2 separate regions of the Homo sapiens genome follow, and region 1 is linked to region 2. The links come from fine-mapping of genetic effects on plasma protein levels. A gene starts in region 2. The other region holds a variant in brackets. All regions are shown on one strand. Distances are from middle to middle.

Region 1 (15,879 bases), 27 kb after region 2:
CCACCTTTGTGTGATCCCCTCCCCCTGAGAGGGCACGTCTGTCTTGCTAGGGGACACTGGCTCTTCACCTGGCTTTAAAGAAGCAAGCTGCCATGTTGTGAGCTGCCACATGGAAAGGACAAGGAACAGAGGGCAACCTCCCACTCACAGCCAGCAAGAAACTGAGCCCTCAGTCTGGCATTCTGCAAGGAATGGCGTGCTGCCCAGTGACCACATGCACTTCCAGGTGTATCCTTCCTCAGTCAAGCCTTGGATGAGACGACATCCCTACTGACACCTTGACTGCAGCTTCATGAGACCCTGACACCCTCAGCAGAGGGTTTTTATACAGCTGTACAGTGAGTTTGTGTCTTAAGCTACGTGTTGCTACAAAACAGTAAAAAAGTTTAAAAAATTTTTAAAGTTTATAAAGTAAAAAAGTTACAATAAGCTAAGGTTAATTTATTATTAGGAAAAGAAATTTTAAATATAAATTTAGTGTAGGCTAAGTGTACAGTGTTTATAAAGTCTATAGTGGTGTAGAATAATATCCAAGGCTTTCACATTCACCCATCACTCACTCACAGACTTACCTAGGGCAACCTCCAGTCCTGCAAGCTCCATTCATGGTAAGTGTCCTATAGAAGTGTGCCATTTTTTATCTTTTTTTTTTTTTTTGAGACAGAATCTTGCTTTGTTGCCCAGGCTGGAGTGCAGTGGCATGATCTCAGCTCACTTCAGCCTCCACCTCCTGGGTTCAAGCGATTCTCCTGCCTCAGCCTCAGAGCAGCTGAGATTATAGGCGCATGCCACCCTGACCGGCTAAGTTTTGTATTTTTAGTAGAGATGAGGTTTCACCATGTTGGTTAGGCTGGTCTCGAACTCTTGACCTCAAGTGATCCTGCCACCTTGGCCTCCCGAAGTGCTGAGATTACAGGCAGAGTCACTGTGCCCAACCCCATTTTTTGTTTGTTTGTTTTTTAATCTTTACACTATAGTTTTGCTATACCTTTTCTATGTTTAGATATATGTTTAGATACACAAATGCTTACCATTGTGTTATAATTGTCTGTAGTATTCAGTGCAGTAACATGCTGCACAGATTTGTAGCTTGGGAGAAATAAGCTATACCATACAGCCTAGGTTGTATAGTAGGCTATTCCATCCAGGTTTGTTAAAATACACTCTATCATGTTTACACAATGACAAAATCACTTAACAACACACCTCAGATTGTATCCCTGTCTTTAAGCAATGCATGGTTGTACTTTATTGAAAAAAATCTGTTGGGAAAAAGAGACTGAGTGCTGTAATTCGTTTTCAAATACTGCACAGGAGAACCTTATCATTAAGGAGGTCAACTTCAGGTTAAGTTTTAAGTTCATATTTAAGTTTCACCTGAATTTCCCTTGTTAATTTGAAGGTGTATTTCTATATTTGTACCCAAATTTATTTTAAAATCACATTTGTTGTTGAAGCTCAGGTTAGTCTGGCAGTTTCTGTAATGTTAAACATACACCTACCCTATGACTCAGAAATTCTACTTGTCATTTATTCAGCAGAAATAAAAACATATATCCATAAAAAGACCAGTTTAGGAATGTTCATAGCAGCTTTGTTCATAATAGCCCCAAACTGGACAGGCCAAACGTCCCTCAACAGAAGAGTGGGTAAATAAATTGTGGTATGTCCATTAATGGAATACTACTCAGCAATAAAACACTGTGATGTGCTGCCTGGACCCCCCCTCAGAAATAAAGGGATTATTTCCCCTGGCTGCTAGGAGTGCTGCTGGGAGACAGCCCTCAGCTGTCAGCTTTTTATAAGGAGAACTTCCCTGCCTGAAAGCTGCAGGCTTGCCCGAGATACCACCTTCCTGTAGAAGGAGCCCACATCCAATGCCTGATCAACACGGGGCAAGCATCAAGGTCCCCACACCCCACCTTGAGATAACTGACAGACAATCTCACGCCAGTACCCCCACTGGGATGCACTGAGGCTGGGGCTGGAGCTGCCTCACAGCTCTATTCCCCAATCTGCTCAATCTGACTTCTTTCCCTGCCTTTCAAAAGACGTGGCTTCTAAGAGAACTCCTTTATCAATGCCCTGCGTGTTCATCTCTGTCTCTTCCCAGGGAATACAACCTGCGAGAAACTACTCATAAAACCAAGAAAATGGATGACCTTCAAAACCATTTTCCTGAGTGTAAGAAACCAGACACAAAAGAGTACATATTCTATGACTGATGAAGTTCTAGGATTGGAAAAACACGTACTGGGGAGAAATCAGATCAGTGTTTGCCTCGGTGGGGACTGACTGGGAAGGGCATGAAGGATCTTTTTTCAGGGGTTGGAAATATTCTACATCTTGATAGGGGTGTGGAGTGCATGGCTGTATGAAATTGACAAAACTCTGAATTGTTCACTGTATGTACATTGTACCACAATTTTTTTTTTTACTTAAATTCTGGGATACATGTGCAGAATGTGCAAGTTTGTTACATAGGTTTACATGTGCCATGGTGATTTGCTGCACCTATCAACCCGTCATCTAGGTTTTAAGCCCTGCATGCATTCGGTATTTGTCTTAATGCTCTCCCTCCCCTTGCCCCCGACCCCCAAACAGGCCCCAGTGTGTGGTGTTCCCCTCCCTGCATCCATGTGTTCTCATTGTTCAACTCCTACTTATGAGTGAGAAGATGCAGTGTGTACCACAATTTTTGAAAAGTAAAAAATAAAAAGTAGCCACATCAAACTTAGTTCAAGTTGAACTTATGGTTGGCCATTCAACATTCATAATATTTAAATTTTCGTGTGGCCAATCAAGCCTATGTTCATTTGAAACCTGGCAGATAGTTTTTTTGAAACTAAGTTTGGGAATTAACATGTCTATTGTGTTCATCTTTTTGCGGATTGCAAAACTAACAGACATGCTTTTTCTGTTTGAGTTATTAATTAAAATGCTTTGCTAATCAGTGATAACTCCAGAGGCTGGTGAAAAATCTTGATATTGCTTCTTCTATGATCACATCTATTCATTAATCAACACACCGGGTGTAATATTTACTCAACTACAATATTCATTCATCTACCTGTATCCTCATCTAGCATTGATGTCTCAGAGAATACTAGATCAGATTATAAAATCATAGACCAAACTTGCCCAACCTGCAGCCTGTGGGACACACACAGCCCAGGATGGCTTTGAATGCAGCCCAAAACAAATACGTAAACTTTCTTAAAACACTATGAGATGTTCTTGCAATTAAAAAAAAATCTCATCCACTATCATTAGTGTTAGTGTATTTTATGTGTGGCCCAAGACAATTCTACTTCCAATGTGGCCCAGGGAAGCCAAAAGATTGGACGCCCCTGTAACTGTTACAGCCAGGAAAGACTTGAGAGATCTCTCAGTTTGCAGACAAGAAAGCTTAGGCTCACAGGAGGTAACTGAGTTGCCAAGGTCAGAGGAAGTCCCTGGTCTGGACAGGAATGGACTGACCCCATATCCCAGGGCATGTCCCACCAGACAACCCTGCTAGAAGTCTCTGCGCCTGTTATTTCCTCTGCAGTTTGGCTTGGAGAAGAAAGTCAATGAGTGTATTTTATCCCACGATTTACCCTTCCCTCCACTGATGCTTCTTTTAAATATTTCCCCCGGTAATCACCTTAGGATAAGAAACTTAGTTCATGGAATAAAGAACTCTTTTTTGATCTTGATAGAGATCTAATTTTTGCCATCAACTAGGAGAAAATAGTGTATCTGCTGCCCGTCTGTTTTCTTCTTTTTCTCACATGGCAATTCGTAGGAAGCAACTTTAGTGAAAACTATATTTGATTCTCAGTAGACAGGTTTGACTCAGAAACTGAGGACATTTTACTAAAAATTCCGAAGAACTTTCATGTGTATGGAGAGATAATAGCAAGTATGTGGTAATAGGTGCAAAGTAAATAACTAAGTCTGAAACGTGAATAGAAAGTAAATCATAAATGCAAACACTACATTGCAGTAATCTTTTTCTCTTTAGCCTTTTCTTACAAAATCTGTGGCTTCCGTACAGAGTTGTAAATCTTTGCTTTGGATGTTTTCTAAGAAACATCTGAGAAAGCAAGTGAAGTCAAAGAAAGTATTAAAAATGCAGAAAAAATCTATAATTAATGACATATTCCATATTCTCTAATCATCTATATTTTGTGATTTTTAAATATCTTCTTTATTGAAATATAATCCACATAGCATACAATTCACCAATTTAAAGTATACAGTGGAATGGTTTTTAGTATATTCATAGAGTTGTGTGACCATCACTACCATCAATTTTATGGTATTGTCATCAACCCAGTAAGAAACCCTATGCCCATTAGCATCACTTCCTGTTCCCCACAATTCCCCCAACCCTAGACAACCACTAATGTACTTTCTTTCTCTAGGAATTTGCCTATTCTGGACATTTCATATAAATAGAATCATACAACGTTCATCCTGGTTTCTTTCACTTAGCATGATGTTTTCTTTTTTTTCTTTTTCTTTTTTTTTTTTTTTTTGAGACGGAGTTTCACTCTTGTTGCTCAGGCTGGAGTGCAGTGGCACGATCTCGGCTCACCGCAACCTCCGCCTCCCAGGTTCAAGCAATTCTCCTACCTCATCCTCCCAAGTAGCTGGGATTACAGGCATGTGCCATCACACCCGGCTAATTTTTTATTTTTAGTAGAGATGGGGTTTCTCCATGTTGGCCAGGCTGGTCTTGAACTCCTGACCTCAGGTGATCCACCCACCTCGGCCTCCCAAAGTGCTGGGATTACAGGCGTGAGCCACAGTGCCCGGCTAGCATGATGTTTTTAAGAGTCGTCCATGTTGTGGCATGTATCAATACTTCATTTAGTTTTTGTTTATTTGTAGAGACAAGGTCTTGCTCTGCAACCTAGGCGGGAGTGTGGTGGCATGATCATTGCTCACTGCAGCCTTGAACTCCTGGGCTTAAGCAGTCCTCCAACCTCAGCCTCCCAAGTCACTAGGACTACAGGCGTGCACCACCATGCTTGGCTAATTTTTTACTTTTTGTAGAGATGGAGTCTTGCTATGTTGCTCAGGCTGGTCTTGAACTCCAGGCCTCGAGTGATCCTCCCACCTCAGTCTCCCAAAGTGCCAAGATTACAGGTGTGAGCCACAGTATCCAGCCTTTATTTTTTTTAATTGGCAAATAATATTCTATTGAGTGGATATAGTATATTTTATTTACGAATTCATCAGTTTGATGAACATTTGGGTTGTTTCCACTTTTAGGCTGTTAAGAATAATGCTGCTCTGCACTTCATAAACAAGTTTCTGGTGAATATATGTTTTCATTTTTTTGGGTATATACCTAGAAGTAGAATTGCTGTTCATATGGTAACTCTATGATTGATTGTTTGAGGAACTGCCAGAGTGTTTTCTAAAGTGACTATATCATTTTAAATTTCCACCATCAATTTCTCCAAATCCTTGCAAACACTTGTTATTACCTGTCTTTCTGATTATAGACATTCCCATGGGTATAAAGTGGTCTCTTGTGGTTTTGATTTGTATTTCCCTGATGGTTAATGATGCTGAGCATCTTTTCATGTGTTTATTAGATATCTGAATATCTTCTTTGGAGAAATGTCTTTTCAAATCCTTTGCCCATTTGAACATTGGAGTATTTGTCTTTTTATTATTGCATTGTAATTGTTCTCTATATAGATACTTCCCTTTTCAGATACAACATTACAAAACTTTCCTCCCATTCTCTGGGTAGTCTTTTCACTTTATAGATGGTGTCCTTTGAGCCACAACATTTTTAGTTTGATGATGTCCAAATTATTATTGTTTCTTTTGTTTTTCGTGCTTTTAGTGTCATATTTTAAAGAAATAATTGCCTAATTCAAGGTCATGAAAATTTACACCTATGTTTTCTTCTAAGCCTGTTATAGTTTTAGCTCTTACATCTAGGTCTTTGATCAATCTTGAGTTAATTTTTTAATATGATGTAAGGTAGAGTTCTCACTTTATTCTTCTTCACATAGATATCTAGTTGCCCTAGCACTGTTTGCTGATAAGACATTTCTTTCCCCATTGAATTGTCTTGGCATCCTTGTTGACAACCAATTTTCTAAAAATGTGAGAGTTTATTTCTGGACTCAATTCTATTCCATTTATTCCATATATAAACTACTCTCCGAAAATAAACTTTGCATGTGGGAAGCTGCAATGAATTCTTTCAGGCCATTAGTAAACTGTGTCTTCAAAGCACCATATCAAAAAGCTTGGAGATTTTTTTCCTTTGCCCATCTCCACAGTCTGTATAAGGTAAGGGGTTTAGCAATAGCAACAGGGAAGTATTAAAGGCAATAAGCTGGAGATTGCAGGCAGGAGTCAGAGCAGCCTTCATTTTACAAGAGTGGAAAAACCAAGTCATGAACTTTGTGACAGCTTGACTAAAATCCAGAGGGAAACTCCAAAGCAGCTCGAGTCTCGATGCACAAATTGCTTCCTGACGTGTCTTGCGACTGGCCTTGTTTCCAGAGGGCCAAAGTTCAATGATTAGGATTACTTCTGAGACACCTGGGGACAGAGGCATCCAGAACAAATGCTCTGGCAGTGAGGCAACCATCACACCGTGTGCCATCAAGTACAATTCTCTTGCCAGTTGCAGCTTGCAAGGGTGAAAGAGAGCGCTGCTGGGAACACCTGGTGCTTTTCTATTGCTTGCCAGGGAGCTTCCAGCCTCAATCCAGCTGGAAATAATGTGAATGTTCCTGAGAAGGTGCTGGGTGCAGTGCCTGCACAGGGACCATGAATCATCCTCCTTAGAGTGGCTGCTACAAAGTGACTGAATTTCATAAAGCTGTGACCCTATTATAGATCACACACACACATGACCAGAGCAGGCGGTCCAGGTGTGACAGCCAAGACTTATCTCCAGGTGGGCATTCCGCCTTATTTCAGCCCCTGGGTGTGAATGTCACTGTTTCTGGTGAAATCTCAGCTCTTCTTGCCTACTCAAGGATGGTACAGGCCACTTAACAACAGCAGCAGGCATTTGCAGAACAGTCGGATTCCCGAAACCCTGAGCTTTTTAATAAGATCTGAAAACTGACCTAGCATAGTGGAAAACAAAAACACTTAAGTGTACTCACAAATATCCACAAGGCATTCACACGTCTCACAGGGAAAAACACAGCGTGCATCACTTTGAAGAGATTCTCATTTAAGTAATGCCAGCTCAAATGTCCATCAGCTAAAATATTCCAGCAGATACAGGGAAAAACAAACAAACAAACAAACAAACAAACA[G/AACAAACAG]CAGCGCAGGTACCTTTGTCTAGCTGATGCAGCCAGGCAGAGTTTCTTTTCTTTGGAAAAACTTCAAAATATTTTATTGGGGATTGTACACTTAATCACTAAACAAAAACCAAAACAACACTCATCTGTGCTTAATAAATGTATTTCAAGAAATGGTATGTATTTAAAGAAATGTATTTCAAGAAATGAAAGCAAGTAGTGGCTTTCAATCCTTTTTGACCAAATATCTTGTGGTTGTACCTAGTAAACGGTTCCCCCATCACCGCCATCATTTTTAGTATAAAGCAGAATCACCAGTGTTTACCGGCCTTTTTTTTTTTTTTTGCTTAAACAACAGAACTTTAATTTCTCAGGCTGGAGGCTAGAAATCCAAGATGAAGGCATCAGTTGATTTGGTTTCTTCTGAGGCCTTTCTTCTGGGTTTGTAGGTGGCTGCCTTTTCTCTATGTCCTCACATGGCCTTTTCTGTGTGAGTGCCTATGTCTGGTGTCTCTGTGTATCCACATTTTCTTTTATATATATATTATATATTTTTTTATTTTAAATTTGTGGGTACATGTGCAGGATATGCAGGTTTGTTACATAGGTAAGTGTATGCCATGGTGGTTTGCTGTACAGATCAACCCCATCACCTAGATATTAAGCCCAGCATCTATTAGCTATTCTTCCTGACGCTCTCCCTCCCTGCACCCTCCCACCCCCTAACAGGCCCCAGTGTGTGTTGTTTCGCTGCCATGTGTCCATGTGTTCTCATCATTCAGCTCCCACTTATAAGTGAGAACATGCGGTGTTTGATTTTTGTTCCTGCATTAGTTTGCTGAGGATAATGGCTTCCAGCTCCATCATGTCTCTGCAAAGGACTTTATCTCATTCCTTTTTATGGCTGCATAGTATTCCACGGTGTATATATACCACATTTTCTTTATCCAGTCTATCATTGATGGGCATTTAGGTTGATTCCATGTCTTTGCTTTTGTGGATAGTGTTGCAATGAACATACACATGCATGTATCTTTATAACAGAATGGTTTACATTTCTTTGGGTATACACCCAGTAATGAGATTGTTGGGTCGAATGGTATTTCTGCTCCTAGGTCTTTGAGCAATCACCACACTGTCTTCCACAAAGGTTGAACTAATTCACACTCCCACCAAGAGTGTAAGAGTGTTCCTTTTTCTCCACAACATTGCCAGCATCTGTTGCTTTTTGACTTTTTAATAATAGCTATCCTGACTGGCATGAGATGGCATCTCAATGTGGTTTCGGTTTGCATTTTTCTAATGATCAGTGATGTTGAGCTTTTTTTTCATATGTTTGTTGGCTGCATATATATCTTTTTTAAAAAAAGTGTCTGTTCATGTCCTTTGCCCACTTTTTAATGGGGTTGTTTGTTTTTTTTGGTAAATTTGTTTAAGTTCCTTGTATTAATAGATGCTGGATATTAGACCTTTGTCAGATGGATAGATTGCAAACATTTTCTCCCATTCTGTAGGTTGTCTGTTCATTCTGATGACAGTTTTTTTTGTTGTTCAGAAGCTCTTTAGTTTGATTAGATTCCATTTGCCAATTTTTGCATTTGTTGCAATTGATTTTGGTGTTTTCGTCATGAAATCTTTGCCCATGCCTATGTTCTAAATGGTATTGCCTAGACTTTCTTCTAGGATTTTTATAGTTTTGGGTTTTACACTTAAGTCTTTAATCCATCTTGAGTTGATTTTTCTATAAGATGTAAGGAAGGACTCCAGTTTCAATTTTCTGCGTATGGCTAGCCTGTTCTCCCAGCACCATTTATTAAATAGGGAATCCTTTCCCCATTGTTTGTTTTTGTCAGGTTTGTTGAAGATCAGATGATTATAGGTGTGTGGTCTTAGTTCTGGCTTCTCTATTCTGTTCCATTGGTTTATGTGTCTGTTCTTGCACCAGTACCATGCTATTTTTGTTACTGTAGTTTTGTTTGAAGTTGGGTAGGGTGATGCCTCCAGCTTTGTTCTTTTTGCTTAGGATTGCCTCGGCTATTTGGGCTCTTTTTTGGTTCCACATGAATTTTAACATAGATTTTTCTAATTCTGTGAAGATTGTCGATGGCAGTTTAATGGAAATAGCATTGAATCTATAAATCCCTCTGAGCAGTATGGCCACTTCCATGATATTGATCCTTCCTATCCATGAGCATGGAATGTTCTTCCATTTTTTGGTGTCATCTCTGATTTCTCTGAGCAGTGGTTTGTAGTTCTCCTTGAAGAGGTCCTTCACTTCCCTTGTTAGCTGTATTCCTAGGTATTTTATTTTTTTGTGGCCATTGTGAATGGTAGTTCATTCATGATTTGGCTCTCAGCTTGCCTGTTGTTGATGTAAAGGAATGCTAATAATTTTTGTACATTGATTGTGTATCCTGAGACTTTGCTGAAGTTGCTTATCAGCTTAAGAAGTTTTTGGGCTGAGACAATGGAGTTTTCTAGATATGGGATCATGTCATCTGCAAACAAAGATATTTGACTTCCTCTTCCTGTTTGGATACCCTTTATTTCTTTCTCTTGCCTGATTGCCCTGACCAGAACTTCCAATACTGTGTTGAATAGGAGTGGTGAGAGAGGACATCCTTGTCTTGTGCTGGTTTTCAGGTGAATGCTTCCAGCTTTTCCCATTCAGTATGATATTGGCTGTGGGTTTGTCATATATGGTGCTTATTATTTTGAGTTATGTTCCTTCAATACCTAGTTTATTAAGAGTTTCTAACATGAAGCGATGTTGAATTTTATTGAAGGCCTTTTCTGCATCTATTGAGATAATCATGTGGTTTTTTTGTCTTTAGTTCTGTTTATGTGATGAATCACATTTATTGATTTGTATATGTTGAACCAACCTTGCATCCTGAGGATGAAGCCTACTGAATCATGGTGAATAAGCTTTTTGATGTGCTGCTGGATTTGGTTTGCCAGTATTTTGTTGAGGATTTTTGCATTGGTGTTTCATTAAGGATATTGGCATGAAGTTTTCTTTTTTTGTTGTATCTCTGCCAGGTTTTGGTATCAGGATGATGCTGGCCTCATAGAATTAGTTAGTGTTTACCAGCATTTTAAAGCCAAGGCAAAAAACCTTCTTCTTGTACCTCTTAAATTTTCTCTGATTTGTGCTGTTTCACACCCTCCTTATCCACTCCATCCCTAACCCTTGTGCTTGAATGTCACTGTTTACAAACAGACACACACAAAAATGTGGCATCCCTTTCAGAGGAAAAGCCGTGGGCTTTGGTTGATGGTTGGTCAAGCACAGGTCATACAGAAGCCATGTGGAAAGGCAAAATCTAATTGACTTTATTCCACAGAAGCATTTTGAGTGTATGCAGACACACACAGTCATGCACATAGACACACAGACACACACAGAGACACACAGAGACATACATAGAAACAGTCATACACATAGACACACAGACACACACAAACATACATAGACATAGACATACACATAGACCCAGACAGACACACACACACACACAAACATACATAGACACATATGCATAGACACACACATGGACACATACACAGACACACACTTGTATACACACAGATATACACATAGACATACACAGACACACACAGAGACACATGCCCACACACACACAGAGACACACACACGTGCACATCCTGGGGAGGAGAAGCAGTTGTAGGAATGCAGACAGAGTAGTCTGCCTGTCTGAATTACACTTTCCCCTATGCTAGCATGCCACATTTACAGTATCAGTGCTTCAGAGCACTTTAAACCTCCCGGGCTCTTCATTCCTTCCTACCTCAGAGGGCAGCCACAGTAATGATAGGATTTCCTTCCACTCCACCTTAGCAAGCTTCTCTGTCTTACCTGACTCAACCCACCCATCGCAGGCTTCCCTTTCTATCAGCCATGCTTTGTTTGGTCTGTTCCTCCTCGTCCCCCCCTCCCAGGGACTCCCAGTGCAGAGACAGTCAGATCCATTTTCTACCCCTTTGCCCTTTGAATTTAATTCTTTTGAGGAATCTATTTAGAACTATGATGAACGCTTAGTAAATAATAAGGCAAAGTGATGACTAATTGAGCTCCCAGGGAAATGCAGATGGGCTGCAATATTTTTATCTCAAAACTTCCACCATGTTTCCTAGGCCCTGCCCTTCTCAGACAATTTGCAGTAGACACATGGAAGAAGTTGCAGAAAACACTGCGGTCCTTAACAGGATGCTGTCTGTATTCTTGCACTATGCTGCTATGAGTTTTGTTCCTGCCACCAACGAGATGATAAATCCCCTGAATTCTCAAAACAGACCCCAAATGTCATCACCCACCAGTTCCCAACTGTTGTGGCTCTGTCGCAGCCATACATCTCTCTCGGGTCACGGCAGGATCCTACCTGCTTCCCTTATTTCCACTGCGGCCACACAGCCAGGGGCAACTTCCCCAAGCCCAACCCTTCACTGGTTTCTTATCACAGAAGTCAAAAGAAAGTCCTAAATCCTTACCAGGGCCTACAACGCCTCCCTGAGTTGGCTGTGGCTAGCTCTGTGCCCATTTCCCCTTATGCTCTCCCTTACCTGCCCTTTCCAGCCACACTGGCTTTTTTTGTGGTTCTCAGACACAAGCCTATTCCCAGCACAGGGGGCTGTGCACTTGCTGTTCTTTCTGTACAGGTGCTCTTCTCCCAAGATATCTGCAAGGTTTCCTCCTCCCTCACTTCAACCAAGGTTTCCTTTCAGCTAACAAATCCTCACGGAGGCCTTCCCTGACTCCCGCGTAAAGTCAAAACCCCATGATTCTCTGTCTCTCTATTTTCTCTTCTTTCCCGCCCCCATCTCACTTAACTAAATTAAGCACTGAGAAATGTATCTGTCTCAATGGAATGCAAGCCCATGAGGGCAACGACCTAGGCTGTCCTCTTCACCATGGATAGTATACCTAGACTACACTGGGAGCTGGCACACTGTAGGTGTGAATGAATAAACACATGTGAAATGGTTTCCATTTACTGCAGAATTTTGAGAGGAGAAAAGGTCACTGGTTAACAGGAGGGTTTCAGGGTCAGGTTGTTTTGATTTTGAATCTTGTTATTACTCATTAGCCACGTGACTTTAGCAAGCTTTTTAGCTTTCAGAGTCTTGGTTTCCTCATCTGCAAAATAGGACTAATATTATCTACATCACAGAAAGGGATGCAAAACACATATTATAATAGATAATACTTAGTACCTTTGCAATAAGTTGTAATATTTCCAATTATCAATGTAGGTCAACAGCAACCCGGCACCATAAAATGTTTTATATCTTAATGGAGATCTAGCATAATTCTGGTTTGTGCTTTTTACCCCTTAGAAAAAAATGTAACTGCTGACAGCAAGGTGAAGACTTAATCTTTAGAGCCTTGCTAAAAATACATTTTAAAATTCTTTAGAAGCAAGGCTTACCTCACTGGGCACTTAAGAAATGTTGATTATAGAGAATCATCGTGATCAGAAGACTGTTATGTTAGAACAACAAACATAACTAAGGATGAGAAAACGTTCTCTGCTATTCAGACACTAAGCTCTAGCATAATAAGCAGGCTGAGCATAACTTCATGTCAAGAGAGAACAAGGCTTTTCTTACATACTTTTTCAGGCTCTTCAGAGAGTAGTGCTTGGGGGAAATTCCATGAGAAACATGTGGAGCAGTCTCAAATCCCCCTATATATTTGGTTAAACTTAAAGCTGAGGTCAGAGTACACCTGCCCTTCTTGACATTTCAAGAAAAGTGGAATTCTAATTATCTTCTCTATTTGCTCCATGTACCTAGGAAAGGGAACTCTAGTTCAATAATAAATCATGCAAAATGGAGCACCTTTTTTTCAGTTATATTTGAAGGATCAGGTTATGTCTAAGTAGTCATCATATTATGTTAAAATACATGTATGTGTTTGCCTGTGTCTGCCAAATAAAGTCAATTAGATTTTACAGGTCTGTCACTCATACTATGGATATTTGAGAGCTACTGAATTTAGTTATTTTAAAGTCAATAAACTTTAAGGAGTTATGCTATGATATTAAGGTTAGATAAATGCTTGTTCTATTTAGGAGTTTTAAAGTGGGATAGAGTTTTTCAGTTTAAAAATAATCCCAATTACTGACATAGACATAGACACTCTAACAATGAAAATAAAACCCTAGATTTGGGGCTCTTTGTGGGCCCCATTTGAGCCTAATTTATACCTCTCTTGTACCCAGCCTATGACCTCAGACATAAGAGATGCTCATTGAATGCCTGTTTAAGGACTGGAGAATATACATTTTGATGTAAAATATTAAAAAAAGTATTCTATTGTTTCTGACACGTTTATCTCTGCATAATTATTCTTCTCCAGTTTTTTTAAATCTATGCTTCATCTTTTCTGATAGACTATTGTTATATATTTTGAGGTAATCAATCCTTTCAATCATTTCTTTATAAATTTTGATATTAGTGTCATATTATGGAATGACTTCCACACTCTAGTGATACGAATACACACTTTAAAAAATATTTTCTTCTGGTACTTTTAAGTGCTTTTAGATGTAAATCTTTAATTCAGCTGTAATTTAGTTTTGTGTATTCTATGAGGAAGGGACATACAGTCTCTTTCAATTTTTTAAGGAATAATGTCAACATGACTTACTAAACAATTTATTTATTCTCCATTGCTTTAAAGAGTAACACAAAGAACATTACATTCTCAAGAATGGAAAAGACAGAGAACTATAAATACCAGAACATTCTTAATATAGTCACTTAAATTTTTCTCTTCCTATGAGCAATTCACCTATCAATAATACAACCTTGCCAAACACTTTAGCGCCACACAACTTTCTTTTAGCTTGGGAATGCTGGACCTACAGAATAAGAAACAGCATTTTCCAACACTGAGTGTGGCTTGAAATAAACAAGCTATATCTCCTGTTATAAAAACCAAATAACATATGATGTTTCATTTCATTCCTGAGTTACTTCACTTAGAATAATAGTCTCCAAACTCAACCAGGTCACTGCGAATGCCATTAACTCACTCCTTTTCATGGCTGAGTAGTATTCCATCATCTATATATATTCATATATATTCATATATATATATATTACAGTTTCTTTTCCACTCGTTGATTGATGGGCATTTGGGCTGGCTCCATATTTCTGGAATTGTGAATTGTGTTGTTATAAACATCTGTGTGCAAGTATCTTTTTTGTATAACGACTTCTTTTCCTCTGGGTAGATGCCCAGTAGTGGGTTGCTGGATCAAATAGTAGATCTACTTTTAGTTCTTTAAGGAATCTCCACACTGTTTTCCATAGTTGTATGTTCTCACTCATAAGTGGGAACTAACTTATGAAGATGCAAAGGCATAAGAATGACACAATTGACTTTGGGGACTCAGGGTGGGTGGGAAGGGGGTGAGGGATAAAAGACTACAAATGGGGTGCAGTGTATACTGCTCAGGTGATGGGTGCACCAAAATTTCACAAATCACCACTAAAGAACTTACTCATGTAACCAAACACCACCTGTTCCCCAATAGCCTACAGACATAAAATTAAAAATATCAAAAAACAGAAAAAACAAGCAAATGAAAAATAAACATTACTTAAAAGGCAAAAAAAAAAAACAAACCCTAAGATGCCATGATTGATTTTAAGATACACCATTGTTTTACATACCACTAAGAAAAACAAAACATGGTTGCCAATTATATTTGTAAGAAACCATTGATTATAATACATATCCTGACTTTAAAGCTGATAAAATGTGAAAAGTATTACATCTTAGAGTCAATGAATTATGCTAAAAAAAAAGCCTAAAATATACATGAGTCCAAATAAATGTCATTAAGAGTCATTTGAGTCTAACTGTGATATAATAATACAGGTTCATAACTGTACTTTTTTTTTTTTTTTTTTGAGATGGAGTCCCACTCTGTCACCTAGGCTGCAGTGCAGTGGTGCGATCTCGGCTCACTGCAAGCTCCGCCTCCCGGGTTCACCCCATTCTCCTGCCTCAGCCTCCTGAGTAGCTGGGACTACAAGCGCCCGCCACCATGCCCGGCTCATTCTTTTGTATTTTTAGTAGAGATGGGGTTTCACCGTGTTAGCCAGGATGGTCTCGATCTCCTGACCTTGTGTTCCACCCGCCTTAGCCTGTACTATTATGTAAAATTTCAGTGTATTTGAAGCATTCTTTGGCAAATAAGCTGAATTTAACTTTCAATACAATGGAAAAAGTGTGATTATATAATAGCTTGCCTTTCACCTCGCTTCTGGTGGTTTGCTGGCAATAGCTTAAAATGACTATACATTGGTTCCTTAAAATTGTATTTTATTTAGAGTTCTGTTGAGTTACTTTTTTAACGAGAAAAATATTTAAATATTTAAAAACCCTGGGGGTAGGCAGATGCTTCTTCTTTGATCTGAAATCACCCTGCTTCTAATCTTTTTTGATATCCAGTAAGCAACATCACATGAGGTGCAAAGAGGGGCTTGTACAAAGGAGAAAAAAGTTAGATTACTTCTTTCTAGTGTTTTATTTAATATCAATGTCTCATGGAAACAGGACACTAAATTGCTGCT
Region 2 (15,879 bases):
CCTGCCTTTTCACATGTTGATGTTATTTATCATAAAAATTGCCTTTTAAAAATATTTTTACATCATTTTTAAATGGCTTATTCTACCACATGTCTATCTCAATCAATTCAACAAGTCTCTTGATGCTTGACTATTAAGTTAATTCCAATTTTTGGCTTTTGTAAAAATTGTTTTTATGAGCAATTAATTATTTCTTTTACAATATACTTCTATGAGCAGAACTACTGGGTCTAAGTGTAGTCTAAGTGCACTTTTTTTTTTTTTTTTGAGACAGAATCTCACTCTGTCGTCCAGGCTGGAGTACAATGGTGCAATCTTGGCTCACTACAACCTTCGCCTCCCGAGTTCAAGCAATTCTCCTGTCTCAGCCTCTCAAGTAGCTGAGATTACGGGCGCCCGCCACCACACCTGGCTAATTTCTATATTTTTAATAGAGACGGGGTTTCACCATTTTGTTCAGACTAGTCTCAAACTCCTGACCCCAGGTGATCCACCTGCCTTGGCTTCCCAAAGTGCTGGGATTACAGGTGTGAGCCACCACGCCCGGCCTAAGTGCACATTTTATGACTTAATATATATTGCCAAACTGCTTTTCTGATAAGTTGTACCAATTTAAATTACCACAAAACAATTGTCTTTTGGGAATTACTCATTTTAATCTTTGCTAAACTCATAGGTGATCAGTTGCATCCCTTTTTTTTTTTTTTTTTCATTTAATTGCTTAAACCTTATTTCATTTACCAAGTGATCACTTATGTTCTTCTTTGGTCAGGTAACATAGGCAAGTTTCTTAGCTCTCGTACTTTGGTTTTCCTCATTTATAAAATGGGGATATTAATATTAGTTACCCCGGATGAACGTCATAAGTTTTAAAAAGTTAATTCAAGTAAAGCACTTAGAGTAGTTCCTGGCCCATAGTGAGTTCACAATTGTAACCATTAGGTATTTTGGAAAATGCCTGTTCATGTTGTTTACTTGTTTTCCTATGTGGTTGCTTATCTTTTTGTTACTGACTTTTAAGAGGTCTTACTACATTAATGATATTAACTATTATTTTCCATATATAATTAAATATTTCTTTCAACTTTATGATTTTCCTTTTCAACTTTCTGATGTTAATTTTTTTTGGCCATGTAAAAGTTTAAAAATTTTATACTATTAAATCTATTCATCTTAAGCTAGAATAAATTACAGAGATCAAATATTCAAAACATGAGAAAAATAGCAGAGGAAAGCATTTTTGAAATAGCCCTAGTCTGTAAGAAAGAAAACGACTAATCAACTTGACTTAAAAATTTAAAGGTTTCTATAAAAAAGTACTATAAACAAACTTAAGGTACAAGAAAAAAATTTTTAATGTTAAAATATATGATAGACATTAGGTTAATCTCCTGAATATACAAATTTGTAAGAAACCATAAAAATAAGGAAAGTCTATAAATAGGCAATTCAAAGAAAAAGAAATATAAATGTCCTACATCACTCATAATCAAAATAAGATGCCATTTTTTACATATAGATTTACAAAGAGTCTAAAAAATTATTTATGCACAGCATTGTGGTCATGTACAGTTGTGTAGAGTGTTGACTGCAGAAGGACACATAGGTAAGAGAATGAGTGGGAATTAAATACATGCTAAAGTTCCACTTGTTAAGTCTGTGCTGTGGAGCTAGCTGCCTCACCCAGAGGAAGTGACTTCTAATTCTCACGAGGCTATGGGCTAAGAGTGACCCTGATATTCAGTGGTGGTGACAGAGTACAGAAACAGAAATTCTCATATAATAAGCAGATAACACTGAGAAAGCCTCTTTGAGAATAATGTAGCAAAGTCTATCAAAATAAAACACACAAATCTTTTGACCTAGCAACTCTACTGCTAATATGTCATTAGGACATGTAGTTTATAGTTGTCCATGTAATGGATGGCCTCAGAGCTTGGATAGTGGCAGTAGGGACAGACAGAAGAGCATGGACTTGAGATATATTTGGGAAGAAAAAAGAACAAGACCTGCTGATGGATCCATGTGGAGGGGGAAAGGAAAACCTAAGAATAACTCCTAGATCTTGGGCTAGAATAAGTGAGTGGTTGGGGTATCATTTGGTGAAATGTAGAAAGTCAAGGGAAGAACTGGCTTGGAGGACAAAATCAAACCTTCCATTAGATCCATGTTACCTCTGGGATGCCCAGCAAGTTTTCAAGCAGACCTGTCAAATAGGGAGTTGCATATTTGAGCCTGGAGTGCAGAGAGAGGTCATAGATATGGATGTTCATTTCAGTATTGTTCATAAGAGCATATACATATGCAAAGAACCCAGGAACAATATTAAAATACAACAGGATTCTTTTAAAGGAAGTTTTCATATATCCACATACTATAATAGTGTTCATTTATAGAATTAAAGAGAACAAGTTGGAAGTATTTTCAAGTTATATTACACGAAAAATTCAAAGTATAGAGCAGTAAGTATAGTATGTCTTGTTTGACTGCTGATAAAGATATATCTATGAATGAAAACTGTGTGGAATGAAAAAAACTGTTCATGCTGGGTTATAGATGAAAAGTGGGACTGGAGGATTCTGGGAGGGAGTAAATTCATTTTTATCCCAAACCATCTTGTAATGTTTGACTTCCTACCATGTATATATTATGGAATAAAGAAAACAAACTCCATCAGCTTTTGCCTTTAGGACCTCTTCCTGTGCCTGGTTTACAAGGAAATGGATAAATATTCTGGACAAGACAAATACAGGGCCCTGAACAAAACTTGGAAACCCAGAGACACAGATGAATACAGGTTCTATCACAACATAGGTGTGATCCTGCACACTTTATTTACTTGTTCTCTTGTCTCTTAAAAATGGGGACAGTGGCATTGTCTGCCCTTTCAACCCAAGGATTGAGGAGAAGCAGCCAAGTGCTGATCTGTGGCACCGTGAAAATGGGGTGGGGTTGGAAAAAACTAGAAGAAATAATTACTAGATTCAGATACCACCCTTCAGACAATAGAGCCAGAGTAATGTAATTCTTGGACTAAAAAAAGAATATAAAAAATACATACCTCTCATTCATATAATCATTGGTTTAAAGCAGTCAGGCTGCTTATTGAGACTATTTGTTGACTCATTCATATATTCATCAAAAATGTATTGTATCCAATCTACCATGCTCTACACTTCACAATGAAATACTAGAAGTCTCAATCCTCCTAGGGCATGATGCCAGAGGGTACCGAAACCATCCTATTTGAGGGCATATCGTTTTAGCCTGTACTTAGAAATAATGGATCCAATTCTCAGTAAAATACTTTTGTAAACCTAACCCAGCAACATACAAAAAGGATTATACACATTACCCAAGTGGGATTTATCCTAGGAATGCAAGGTTGGTTTAACAACCAAAAATCAATTAACGTAACATGACAAATGAATAGGATAAAGGACAAAAACCATATGATCACCTCAATAGAGGCAGGAAAAACCTTTGACAAAATTGAACAATCTTTCATGATAAAAACACTGACAAAGTAGGAATAGCAGAGAACTTTTTGACAAAGTGAACCTATGAAGAAACCCATAGCTAATAGCACAGTTAATGGTAAAAAAAAACAAAAAACAAAAAACAAAAAAACAACTTTTTTTGTTAGATCAGGAACAAGACAAAAATGCTCACAACTGCCACTTCTACTTAACATTGGACTAAAGGTTCTAGCCAGAACTATTAAGTAAGAAAAAAATAAAATAAAAGGCATTCAACTCTAAAAGGAGGAATTAAAATGTTGTTTCTTTGCACATGTAAATAGATCTTGTATATAGTATGATCATGTATATAGAAAATCATAAGGAATCCACTGAAAAACTACTAGGACTAAAAAATGAGTTCAGGCCAGGCATGGTGGCTCATGCCTATAATCCCTGCAATATTGGAAGGCCCAGGTGGGTGGATCTCTTGAGATCTCGAATTTGAGACCAGCCTGGGCAACACAGAAAACCCCATCTCTACCAACAATACAAAGTAGCTGGGCATGGTGGTGGGCACCAGTGGTCCCAGCTGCTCAGGAGGCTGAGGTTGGAGGATCGCTTGAGCCCAGAAGGTTGAGGGTGCAGTGGATAAGCCATGATCGCACCACTGCACTACACTGAAAACTACAAAACATGGTGAAAAGAAAGAAGATACAAAGAAATGGAAAGGCATCTATGTTCATGGATTAGAAGACTTCATATTGTTAAGACAGCAGTACTACCCAAATTGATCTACAGGTTCAATATCATTGCTATCAAAACTCTAATTGGCTTTTTTGCAGAAATTGACAGGTTGATTGCAAAATTCATATGAAAATGTAAGGGAACCAGAATAACCAGTAGAAACTTTTAAAGGAACAAAATTGAAAAACTCATACTTCTAGGTTTCAAAATTTACTACAAAGCTACAGTAATCTAGACATTGTGGTAACTGGCATAAGAAGAGACAATGGAGCAGAATTGAGAATCCAGAAGTAAACCCTTATGTACACAGTCAATCAATTTTTGGCAACGGTGGAACACCATTCAATGGGGAAAGAACGGTCATTTCAACAAATGGTGCTGGAACAATTGGATATTCACATGTAAAAGAATGAAACCCTACATGACGCCATACATAAAAATTAACTCAAAATGTATTACTGACCTAAATGTAACAGCCAAAATTATAAAACGCTTGGAAGAAAACACAGGTGTAAGTCTTCTTGCCTTGGTTAGGCTGTAGTTCTCAGATGTGATACCAAAAACACAAACAACAAAAGAAAAAAATTGATAAACTGCTCATCATCAAAACTTTAAAATTCTGAGCTGCAAATCACTCTACCAAGATGAAAAGACAACCCAGAGAATGGCAGAAAATATTTGCAAATCATGTACCTGACAAGGGATTTGGATCTAGTATACAAAGAACTAAAACTCCAACAGAAGTCAAATTATCCAACTAAAATTAGGCAAAGGATCTGAAGACATTTTTTCCAAAGAAGATATACAAATGGCCAATAGCACATGAAAAGATGCTCAAGGTCATTAGTAATTAGGGAAAAGGAAATCAAAACCATGAGATATAACTTCACACCTACTAAGATGGCTATAATCAAAAAGACAGTAACAAATGTTGGTAAGGATGTGGAGAAACTGTAACTTTCATACACTGCTGGTGGGAATGTAAAATGGTCTAACTTCTTTGGAAACTGTTTGGCAACACCATAAAAGGTTAAACATAGAACTACCTACCATATAATCTAGCAATTCCACTACTAAATATATACCTGAGAAATGAAAACATATCTTCACAACAACTTGTACATTAAGTTCAGAGCAGCATTATTCATAAATAGCCCAAAGCAGAAATAACCCAAATGTCCATCAACTGATAAATGGATAAATAAAATGTGGCATATTCATACAGTAGAATATTATTTGGCAATAAAAAGAAATGAACAACTGATACATGCTACAACATGGATGACCCTTGAAAACATTATGCTAACTGAAAGAAGCCAGTCACAAAATGACACATTATGATTCCATTGACATGAAATGTTCTCAATAAGAAAATCTATAGAGACAGAAAAGTTGATTAGTGTTTCATTAAGGTAGAGCCCACTGGTTGAATAGGGTGGGAACAGAGATTGAGGGTCACACAACACTGTGAACACACTGAAAAACAATGAACTGTACACTTTCCATGGGTGAATTTTATAGTATGTGAATTATACATCAATACAGCTGTTCTTTTTAATAATGGATCTAACTGCATATTTTCAGAAAAAATTATTAATGGTCTTCCTAGAACCCAGAGAATTAGGTGCAACCTAAACTGAAAGGCTCTAGAGAGCCTAAAGTCAAAACGGGGAAAGCAAGCTAACTTCTAGCCTATAATGAAGATTTTTACAAAAGGCCAAATTGAGCGATAAGTATGAATAATTAAACTCTGTGCTATTGATTCCTTTGACTTAAACAGATTTTCGCCCACTAAGCATTTAAGATGAGAATCATCTTTAATACTGTAATCCTAAGCAGCTGCTCCAGACTTAAACAACTAGTCAATGGCTAAGATCAAACAGAACAAGGATCTTCACGCCATCTGTAAAGCCAGAGTTAAACAGTTAACAAGGAGTGAACAAAATACCTGGAATAGTAGAGAGTTTGACAGTCTCAGACTCAGAAAAATACAGACATGAATATAAAACTCAGCAAACGTTATTTAATTTAAATTTTTTTTTTTTTGGTTTTCATTTGGAATCTGATGGCAAACCTTCAGGGAAACAGGGTAGCTCTAACGGATTTAGAGACACTGGATACCACGAGAAAACTGTTCTTTTACAATACCACAACTTAAGTCATAACCACTGTCATTCCTTAACTGAAAAATAAAAAACCCTGTATTTATGATGTATGGATTGGTCATTTCAATTCATACAAACTTTTAATCCGCAAAACTGAGGACCTGCAATTTAAGTATAACACCGTTCCGTGAGATATTTCTCTGAATTATCTTTCATGATCAAGCATAAATTTTTGTTTAAAACACTTTTTACTTAAGTAGATTACAGTTTCTCATTATAATCAGTCATTTTATTTGGAATTATAGCAATCCGGGTTTTTTTGCTGTACTAAGACGTAGGGAGTCTCACTTTAGGATTTTATTTGCTTCTTAGACATCATTTATATAATATTCCTTGATTTTTATTAAGGCAAAATTTGCTTTTCTAATATTCACTCGAGTAATATTTTGTGATAAAATCACTAAATTCAGGACAATACTTTCTGTATACTCTTGTATTGGAGTACAGATTTAATTCTATCTTCGCCGGTGCACAAATGTAAAAATATAACCCTTCCTTGAAATGAAAAGAAGTCTCACACCACTTTAAGGTAAGACAAAGGAAACCAAGTCTTATTTGCACAAAATAGTTTACTAAATTTAAAATCCTACTCAACCCCTCCCCGCAAATATCTCTCAAAAAGCTGTCAACATGAGGTCTTTGATTTCAGAGCTGTAGCCATGTCATTAATGGTAAAGAAGGTATATTCTGATTCTGATGTCTCTTCTTTGCAGAAGGGTCTTCTGTGGTATTAACAGAAACCTCAGCAAAGCTTGTGGTATCTCAGGGAGTGAAGCTGTGCTACCTAAAGAAACCCACTGGGTATAAAGTGGGGTGGGGGGTTGGAATGACAGAATGCTATCTAGCTAGACATCCTGAGGCAGATTAAAAAACCTTCCTCTGTACCCTGTCATTTCCTTTCAGCAAGATCCTGTTGATGTTTGCACAATTTAAAAAGTGTATCAAATATCTCAATGAGTAACATAAACGGTCCCTTCGAGTATTATTTATTTTTAATCGTTGATGGAAAAATATCAAAATAGTACCTTTTAAATTTATTTCCTTATCCAATCACAAGTAACACCACCAAACAGTTTTTTTTTTTTTTATCCCTACACTGTCGGGGAAATGCCAGACGTACCTTCCTTCCCTCTTTTTGTTTAAGAAAATGGAAAAAAGAAACTTTTAAAACAGAGCATTAGAACTCAGACACGTTACACACGTCTCCATAAAACTAACTTTAGTCCTGGAGAACTAAGTTCATGAGATATGTTTCCCTAAATGTTATAGCTGCTGTATCTACTATAAACAAAACAAGTCTCATTTGAAACAATTACGCATTTCGGGGCTAGTTATTAAGTATTCAGCGTCTGCCAGGATAAGGCGATCAGCGCTTCTACTCCGAATAACAAACCATAAATCAGTTGACAAGCTTGAAAGCATTCAGTCCTAGTCTGTTCGGAAGCCAAGCGTAAATACAGAAAAACCTGTTGGCATGTTTCTCTTGCTCTCTAAGTTTCGCGTTTTTAAAAACACTGTAATACGCAAATGGCGTTTCCCGTAAGTTTCTGGCTCCGAAATAATTTGGATAAAAAACCACAGCGAGGCATCGCGCACAGAAAAATGGAGCCTGTGCCTTTAAGGTAAAATCGGCTGGATCCCAAAAGGCATTCCTCTTTCACGACAAAGAGTTTGGCGAGCGCTACCTCTGGGGTTTCTCCGAGGGACTTGGCGGGTCCGAGCGGAACCCGACCAGACGACTAACCCTGCCTGCCCCGGGGCCCCGCCGCCAGCCCTGCGCCCGCGCGGCGGGAGCGCATCGCGTGCGCCCCGGACTCACCGCTGCCGGGCTGCGGGGACAGCGTGGACACCGAGGTCTGGCCCATGACTGGGGTCGCAGGGCCAGGTCCAGCGATCAAGCGGCTCCTTTGGTCCTTCGATCATGGGTCCGCTCCCAGCCAGACTTCCAGGCGTTCATGTCCCGGCCTGTGCCGAGCGGCCCGCCGGGTCCCCTCACCTTCTACCCCGCGCGGGTCTCCCAGCCCGGCCGGCCGCAGCCGGCGCGGCGGATCCTGCCCAGCGGATGCCTGTCATTCCTCTATGCAGATTAGCTGGGGTCAGGGGTCACGGGGGAAGAAGGGGGGTGAGGGCGATAGGGAGGGGAGGAGGGGGAAGCGGGGGGAGGGCGCAGGAGCAGGGGGTGGGGGAAGCCCCCAGCCGGCCCCGCCGCACCCGCACCCCCTCAGGGTGGTAGGGAGTTCAGGCTTTCAGACTACTCCTCTTTGACTTAAAAGGTTCAAAGTCAAATGATCCTTACGGGCTACAAGAAAAGGAATTAAAGTATTTAGTCACGGTACTTAATTTAACAAAATTTGTTTCTTAAAAGTTATTTCCTTCCTTACATTCTATTTGCAGTATTGTGGCACTCTCATGTCTTGTGCCCATTTTTTTCTCGTTTTAAAAATTATCTTCCTTTTAACAAATATAATTTTTTAAAAACGGCACTAATGGCCTCAATCAGGCTTGACAACAAATCTAAATGGTAGGTCTACGTGTGAGATCAACAAAATATACTTTTTGCTGTCTCCCACCTAAAACTCTGGAGTGCTGACCTCTCCTTTATTTCAAAAGAATTACTGTGAAATAAAGTGATTAAAATACACAAAAGGGGAAAAAAACTATAACAAACTTGAAAGGTGAATTAAACCCTTCTATAATATCCTGTTAAATCTCAATCTTCTTAAAAATATGAATACAAATAAATATTCTTCATATTTACAGTTAATGATTAATTAGTATAAGTAATCTTCATGCTATATATATATAATGTGTGTATATATATATACAGTATATGGAACATCTGTATATGGTGCATTAGATTGGATGGTGGTTACTGGATGTGTTCATTTTATGAAAATTCATTGAGATGTCTGTAATGATGTGTGCACTTTGCTGAAGGCATATATTTCATTAAAATGTAAAAAATATCAGAAAGTGCAATATATTTAGGTCATTTACCACAGCTTTCATTTTTTAATTTATCCTAGACAATCAACTCTGAACTAACATGAAAATCATTTTTTTCTAAAATTTTTATTATTAAGATCGTGCAGAGCCTTGTTTGATTTTTTTGAAAGGCACTTACTTGTCTGTTTTGTCATGGTTAATTAAGTTGCCCTATGTTTTTTCACACCCAAATAGCCCACCCACCACTGTGAGGAAGATCTTTTCCCTAAAAAAGTGTGATCCATTGTCTTCTTCCCTTTGCCTAATTCACTCTTAAGAAACACTGATTTTTTTTTTTTTAATGAAATTGAGGATTTAACCAAAATGTGAGTTCTAATTAGGACAATAAAATTAATCCTAACTACATTTCCTTATAAATACAAAAATGTGTTTTGGAAACACATCCCACCTGGGGCGCTAAGCGATGAGAGTAAGCAATTATAATGGCTGGCTCCTCCAGCTCTTTGCTTTGAGTTGCCGTAAGAAAAAAACAAACAAACAAAAGTGGTTAAAGGTAAGTTAAGAGGGAGAATGTTTCACTCTTCCTTTTGACAGTCTTTCTGATAAAGGGAGGTCACTGATCAGAGGAAATATACAGTACCTTTTGCACATTCAAAATATGTAACTGTAATAATTTTTAAATACTGATAAAAGTTAAACTTTAAGGTTGCTATCATTTCTTCTTTTCCTTGAGAAACAATAGCATATTTCTATTACTTCTATAAATTCTTATTTCAAAGATCAAGGAGGTGCACTATAGTTCCAGTTTTTCAGGAATTGCTTAATACAGCTATATTTACCTTATTCAAGACCTTTCATGATTTGCTAGTTAATATAATCTTCAGCCTCATCTGGGATTCCTATAATACCCTAACCAGGTTATGCAATTTTCTCTGAAACTCTTCCAGTTCCATTACATTATCCTTGAAGCATGTCAACCAAAACTGCAGGAAGTGTGCACTAAGTTTTCTTTCTAAGAGTGGGACAGTTCTTGTTCTTGGTTTCTAGAGCTTCTGATGGAACTTGGCATTTAAGTGGCCTTTTTATCACAGCTAACAAGTTATACTAATGAACATAGAAAACGTCTACAGAAATCTCTAAATTTCATTTCTAGGTTGTAACGCAAAGGTTAGATATTATCACCTAACAAGAGAATTTTAAGATAATTTTCCCCCAAATTGCCTTACTCTTGCCTTATTAGAACTCACACAGTTTTACTAAGAGTTCTGGGTGTTAATCCCATGGGTTTATAGTTTAACTCTGGAAACATTTAATGTCATCTGAAAGGCATGGACATTTCTCTGTATACTACCTCTCTCTAGGGAATTTATTAAAATGCTAAACAGGATTAGACCCAATACCTAACTCTGAGGAAGCTATCTATTTATAATTCTTCAGCATTTATCCCATTGGTCCCACCCTTTGTTCTCTATTTCTAAACCAATCTCTTATCCAGTGATATCTTGGTAAATGCTTAACTGGTTTGGGCTGGGGGTGAGGAGGCAGGAGGGGGCCTCAGACTGCTTTGTTTACTGTGATGTAAATACTCCTACAATAACCTATTCTACAGGCCTTCAACCAGCTAGCAAAACTGATATCAAACAGCTTGCAAAATTCCTTGAAATGTAACAATTTGGCCCACCAGCCTGTGTGAACTGCCTTCAGCACACCGCTACTTTTCTCTGTTATAATAATGCCGCATCATATCATACCATGGCTGAGTTTGAGGAATAGCTTCTATTTAGCCTTCCTAAAAATATAGACTAATGGCATCTACTGATTTTTTCCATGGAACACTCTAAATATTTTTCAAGCTCTGAAAGAACTACTGTGATTTATTCATTTATTTCCAGAAAGAAACTAAAGAAAGTGAATTAGTGAGATAGAATTTCCCCTTCTGAAAGCCAGTGTGCCTTTATGACACAAAGTTGTACTTATCAGGTTTTCAAGCATTCTACCCTGTAACACAGACTTCACTGGCTTGTCTGATGTGGGAAGTCTTAGACTCACCCACCTGGGGTACCCAAAGTGACACTTGCACTCCTCCTGGATGGAAGCCACTATATCTATTAGGTTAAAGTTAAAGCGGACAAAAGCCTAAACATTGGCAATCTGGACCATTTGTGAGAAAGTTCTTTTCTAGGTCAAAGTCCAAATGGCAGACATACAACTTGGTGCCTTTAGAGAAGATGGTTTACAATTACTACAGTCACCACTACCAAATCCTATAACTTAGGTTACTGCCAGATTTTTCTAGGCAGCCAAATCTAGCCTGGAGCAGGAAGAAGAAGGAACCTTCCTCAGAACACAAATGCCATGAATACTAATCCTGGAGGTCTCTGCCTTGTCCAGATGCTGCCAGCTGTGTGAGGATTCATTTTGAGACACCAGATGTTAGGGGTGGAGGAATTATGATGGGAGGGAAGGGTTAGGCAGAGTCCCAAGAGATGAGATGGTTGATCAGAACAGCAGTGACCTGGGAGGCAACAGTGGTTGATAGTGGCCATATACAAGCAGATGAAGATTACATTAATTTACACCCTTATTTCTAGATTTGACCATAGACACCCTGTGAATTAGTGACATTTCCTTGGCTAATGGGAATTGTAGCAATAGAAAAATTATTTCTTAATGGGAAGGAAATGAATGAAAACTTAGCAGTTTTCCTAATAGTATACTAAAAACGATATGCAAAAGTTGTTTTAACTATTTGGGTAGTTTTTACTAGAAGATCTTCTGGTTTTTAAAAACTTTGTATGTCTTCAAAACTTGGCTACATTTTGTAAGAGTCAGCTTACTTAGAAAAATATAAAAAGCAAATGGGAGCTTTACTAGATAATATAAACTCAGTGAAAACTCTGTATATGTAACTAATGTTTACTTTGTAAAATGTTACTCTATGGTAAAGTTGCAACTAAATGGCTACTATATCTTAGATTTTAACAATTCTGAGAGATGCTGGTTTGAACAGGATAATGCTAACAGATAAAGGAAAACTTTTGTTAAGGAAAGAATTACAACTTTGCATATTCTAGTTATATTAAGCATCAGTAGAAGACCACATTCCACAAGTATTAGAACAGGAAACAAACCTGAAAGACAGGCTTTTCTTTCCTATTGTTCTCATATTTTCATGTGATTTATTTCCTGAGTTTTCCTTCTTCTGCTTGCTCAAGCTAAAAGGATTAACAAAATACCTTGCCTCTGCCTCACCCTGCGTGAGTCTCTGCAGAGGCGGGGTGTGGCTCACGTGTGCTTGCTTAGTGAGTGAGCCCCACAGTTGGAAGATTTATGCTGGAAAATAAAGACCTCAAGGGGTGGTGCTGGAATTTCCTTTTCCAAAGACATTCTCCCTACCCTGGGAGGAAAAGCGTCTGTAATTTTGCTCTACTTCATTTCATAAGCAAAACAAAGTACTCATCCATAGTATTAAAACTCTAAAAACTGCTATAAAATGAATAATCTTTAATTTATTGACCAAAATCTAAAGAGAACAGTCCTTAAAGACATCTTTTATATGACTGCCCAATTTACACAAAATAATTGCTTCCAGTAAGGCCCAAATCTTTGTTTTGTTAACCATCACATCCATCCCTAGAAACTAACAAAATTTGCCTGGCAAATAGAGGGTACTGAATACATAGATGATAAATTAAAAATAAGCATTTATGTTATCTCCTTAATGGTAACTTCCAAGTATGGACAAAAAAAAAAATCTGGGAATACATGTAAAATTTTGGTAATAATATAGAATGTTGACTCCATAGCAAGAGAATATCGAGTCTGTCTGTGACTGTAAATTTTCTTTTGTATGCCCCTCTGAAATAATCATCTACTCATTCACCTAGAATTGACTGAGGACTTCCCATGGGCGTGGTACCTCTAGCACATGGGCATAAGGATAAGTGAGGTATGGACTCTCCTGTGGCGGAGGTCATAGTATGGGTACGGTGGAGGGTGGGTGTTGCAGCCTACAAATACATGATCCTAACAGTGGAGGAAGAGAAGTTTGTTCCTCCAGCTGGGAGTGGTGACTCATGCCTGTAATCCCAGCACTTTGGGAGGCCGAGGTGGGCGGATCACCTGAGGTCAGGAGCTTGAGACCAGCCTGGCCAACATGGTGAAACCCTGTCTCTACTAAAAATACAAAAATTAGCCAGGCGTGGTGGTGCACTCCTGTAATCTCAGCTACTTGGGAGGCTGAGGCCGGAGAATCACTTGAACCTGGGAGGCGGAGGTTGCAATGAGCTGAGGTTGAGCCATTGCATTCCAGCCTGGGCAACAGAGTGAGACTCTGTCTCAAAAAGAAATAAATAAATAAAAATAAAAATAAAAAAGAAGAAGTTTGTTCCTCCAAGTGCTAGGGATGCCCAGTAGGTTAGTACAGAGAAGGCTCTGAACTTTAGCAAATTACTAAATCCACATTTTTGCCACACAGAGGTGCTCATTCATTCTGAAGGTGCCCTAAGATTGTGAAGTGCTTCCTGAATTAAAGAAAGATTAAATTCTAATAGTAGGTGGTCAGAATTAACTGTATTTGTTTGTTTATTGCTTGCAGCTTTTTTTGTTTGTTTTTTGTTTTTGAGACAGCGTCTTGCTCTGTGGCCCAGGCTGGAGTGCAGTGGTATAATCATTGCTTACTGTAGCCTTGAACTCCTGGGCTCAAGCAATCCTCCCACCTCAGCCTCCAGAGTAGCTGGGACTATGGGTGCCTGCCACCATGCCCAGCTAATTATTTGTAATTTTTTTTTTTTTTGTAGAGATAGGGTCTCACTATATTGCCCAGGCTTGCTTGCAGCTTTTTGAAGAATAAGTTATGGACCCTAAAATGTACCCATTTAAAGCAAACAGTTCAATAAGTTTTAATAAACATGTAGTCCAACCAACAGCACACTCAAGTGTCAGAAAACTTTGAGATCCCTAAGGTATTCCATCATGTCCTTTTGCAGTTAATTCCTGTTTCACATCCCTGTACCACCCTTGGCATTAGGGAACTGCCAACCTGCTTTCCATGTCCATACTTTTGATTTATCTAAAATTTCTTACAAATGGAATAATATTATGTACAGTTTTTTTTAATCTGGCTTGTTTCATATGTTTTTGATATTCATCCATGTTGCTCTGTGTATCTGTATTTTGTTCCTTTTTGTTCTAGGTTGCCTTCCATTGTATGGCTATACAAAAGTTTGTTTATCTGTTTACCAGTTAATGGGCATTTGGGATGTAACTGTATTTCACTGTATTCCTGCTCCATGAAAAGACTTTGGGTCTATATTGTGTTACATATATGCTAGTTCTATATTAATAATAACTCATTGATTGGTTCACCACTCAACAAATATTTATTATGCATCTCCTTTTTACCAGTCTTTGTTCTAGGTACTTAGGAGACAGAATTATACAAAATACAAAAACACCTGCACTCATAGAGCTTCCCTTCTAATGGAATGACAGAAAATAAGCAGTAAACATAATAAATCAGTAAACTTTATAACAATTTAGAAGATGAAAAGTGCTATGAAATTCAGAAGAGTAAGAGAGATTGGACTGGCATGTGGTGTTCACAGTTGTCCTCACTGAGAAGATAATGTTTAAGCAAAAACACAAAGGAGGTAATGGAGTTAACCATATGGCTATCTGGGGGAGAGGTGTTCCAAGAAGAAAGACCAGTTAATATAAAGACAGGAGCATGGCATATGTTTGAGGAATCCAGGGGAAATGGTGTGGTTGGAGTACATAGAATAAGAGAGGTAAAGATGAGGAGAAGGAGATTATAACCACATAGGACCTTGCAGTTAACTATAAAGACTTTGGGCCAGGTGCAGTGGTTCAGACCTGTAATCTCAGCACTTTGGGAGGCTGCTGAGGCAGGCGGATCATGATGTCAGGAGTTCAAGACCAGCCTGACCAACGTGGTGGAACCCCATCTCTACTAAAAATACAAAAATTAGCTGGGCATGGTGGCGCATTCCTGTAATCCCAGCTACTCGGGAGGCTGAGGCAGGAGAATTGCTTGAACCTGGAACTGGGAGGTGGAGGTTGCAGTGAGTCGAGATCGTGCCACTGTACTCCAGCCTGGGCTGCAGAGCGAGACTCCATTTCAAAAAAAAAAAAAGGCCTTGGCCTTCTTCTCCTCCAAAGAATCAGAACTCCTCGCCAGCAAGGGAACAAAAATGGATGGAGAATGAGTTTGATGAATTGATAGAAGTAGGCTTCAAAAGGTGGGTAATAAACTCCTCTGAGCTAAAGGAGCATGTTCTAACCCAATGCAAGGAAGCTAAGAACCTGGAAAAAAGGTTAGAGGAATTGCTAACTAGAATCACCAGTTTAGAGAAGAACATAAATGACCTGATGGAGCTCAAAAACACAGCACAAGAACTTCATGAAGATACACAAGTATCAATAGTCGAATTGATCAGGCAGAAGAAAGGATATCAGAGATTGAGGATCAACATAATGAAACAAAGCATGAAGACCAAGATTAGAAAAAAAAGAATAAAAGGGAATGAACAAAGCCTCCAAGA

Which allele goes with the higher level. Positions count from the first base shown, and alleles are read on the strand shown. Strength reflects both the effect of a copy and how common the allele is.
For the plasma level of the protein whose gene starts at base 8,434 in region 2, AACAAACAG is the low allele of the variant in region 1 and G is the other (weak association).

The links. PIP is the posterior inclusion probability: the model's chance that the variant is causal. The UK Biobank Pharma Proteomics Project read protein levels with antibody pairs (Olink). The fine-mapping took linkage between variants from a reference panel, not from the people measured, so its PIPs are less certain.
Region 1: its variant is fine-mapped to the plasma level of the PHACTR2 protein (UK Biobank, PIP above 0.99).

What each region holds. Positions count from the first base shown.
Region 1 is chr6:143,643,802-143,659,680 of GRCh38, reverse strand. It overlaps a transcript of PHACTR2 not described here. Among named protein-coding and RNA genes, the nearest start is that of PHACTR2, 26 kb to the left of the region's middle. The variant G/AACAAACAG (reference allele first, on the strand shown) is at 7,291.
Region 2 is chr6:143,670,520-143,686,398 of GRCh38, reverse strand. It overlaps PHACTR2 (phosphatase and actin regulator 2), which reads right to left and starts at 8,434. Exons shown (of 13, transcript NM_001100164.2): 1 at 8,190-8,434. The coding sequence starts at 8,235. RefSeq lists a silencer at 8,193-8,492 and an enhancer at 8,242-9,090.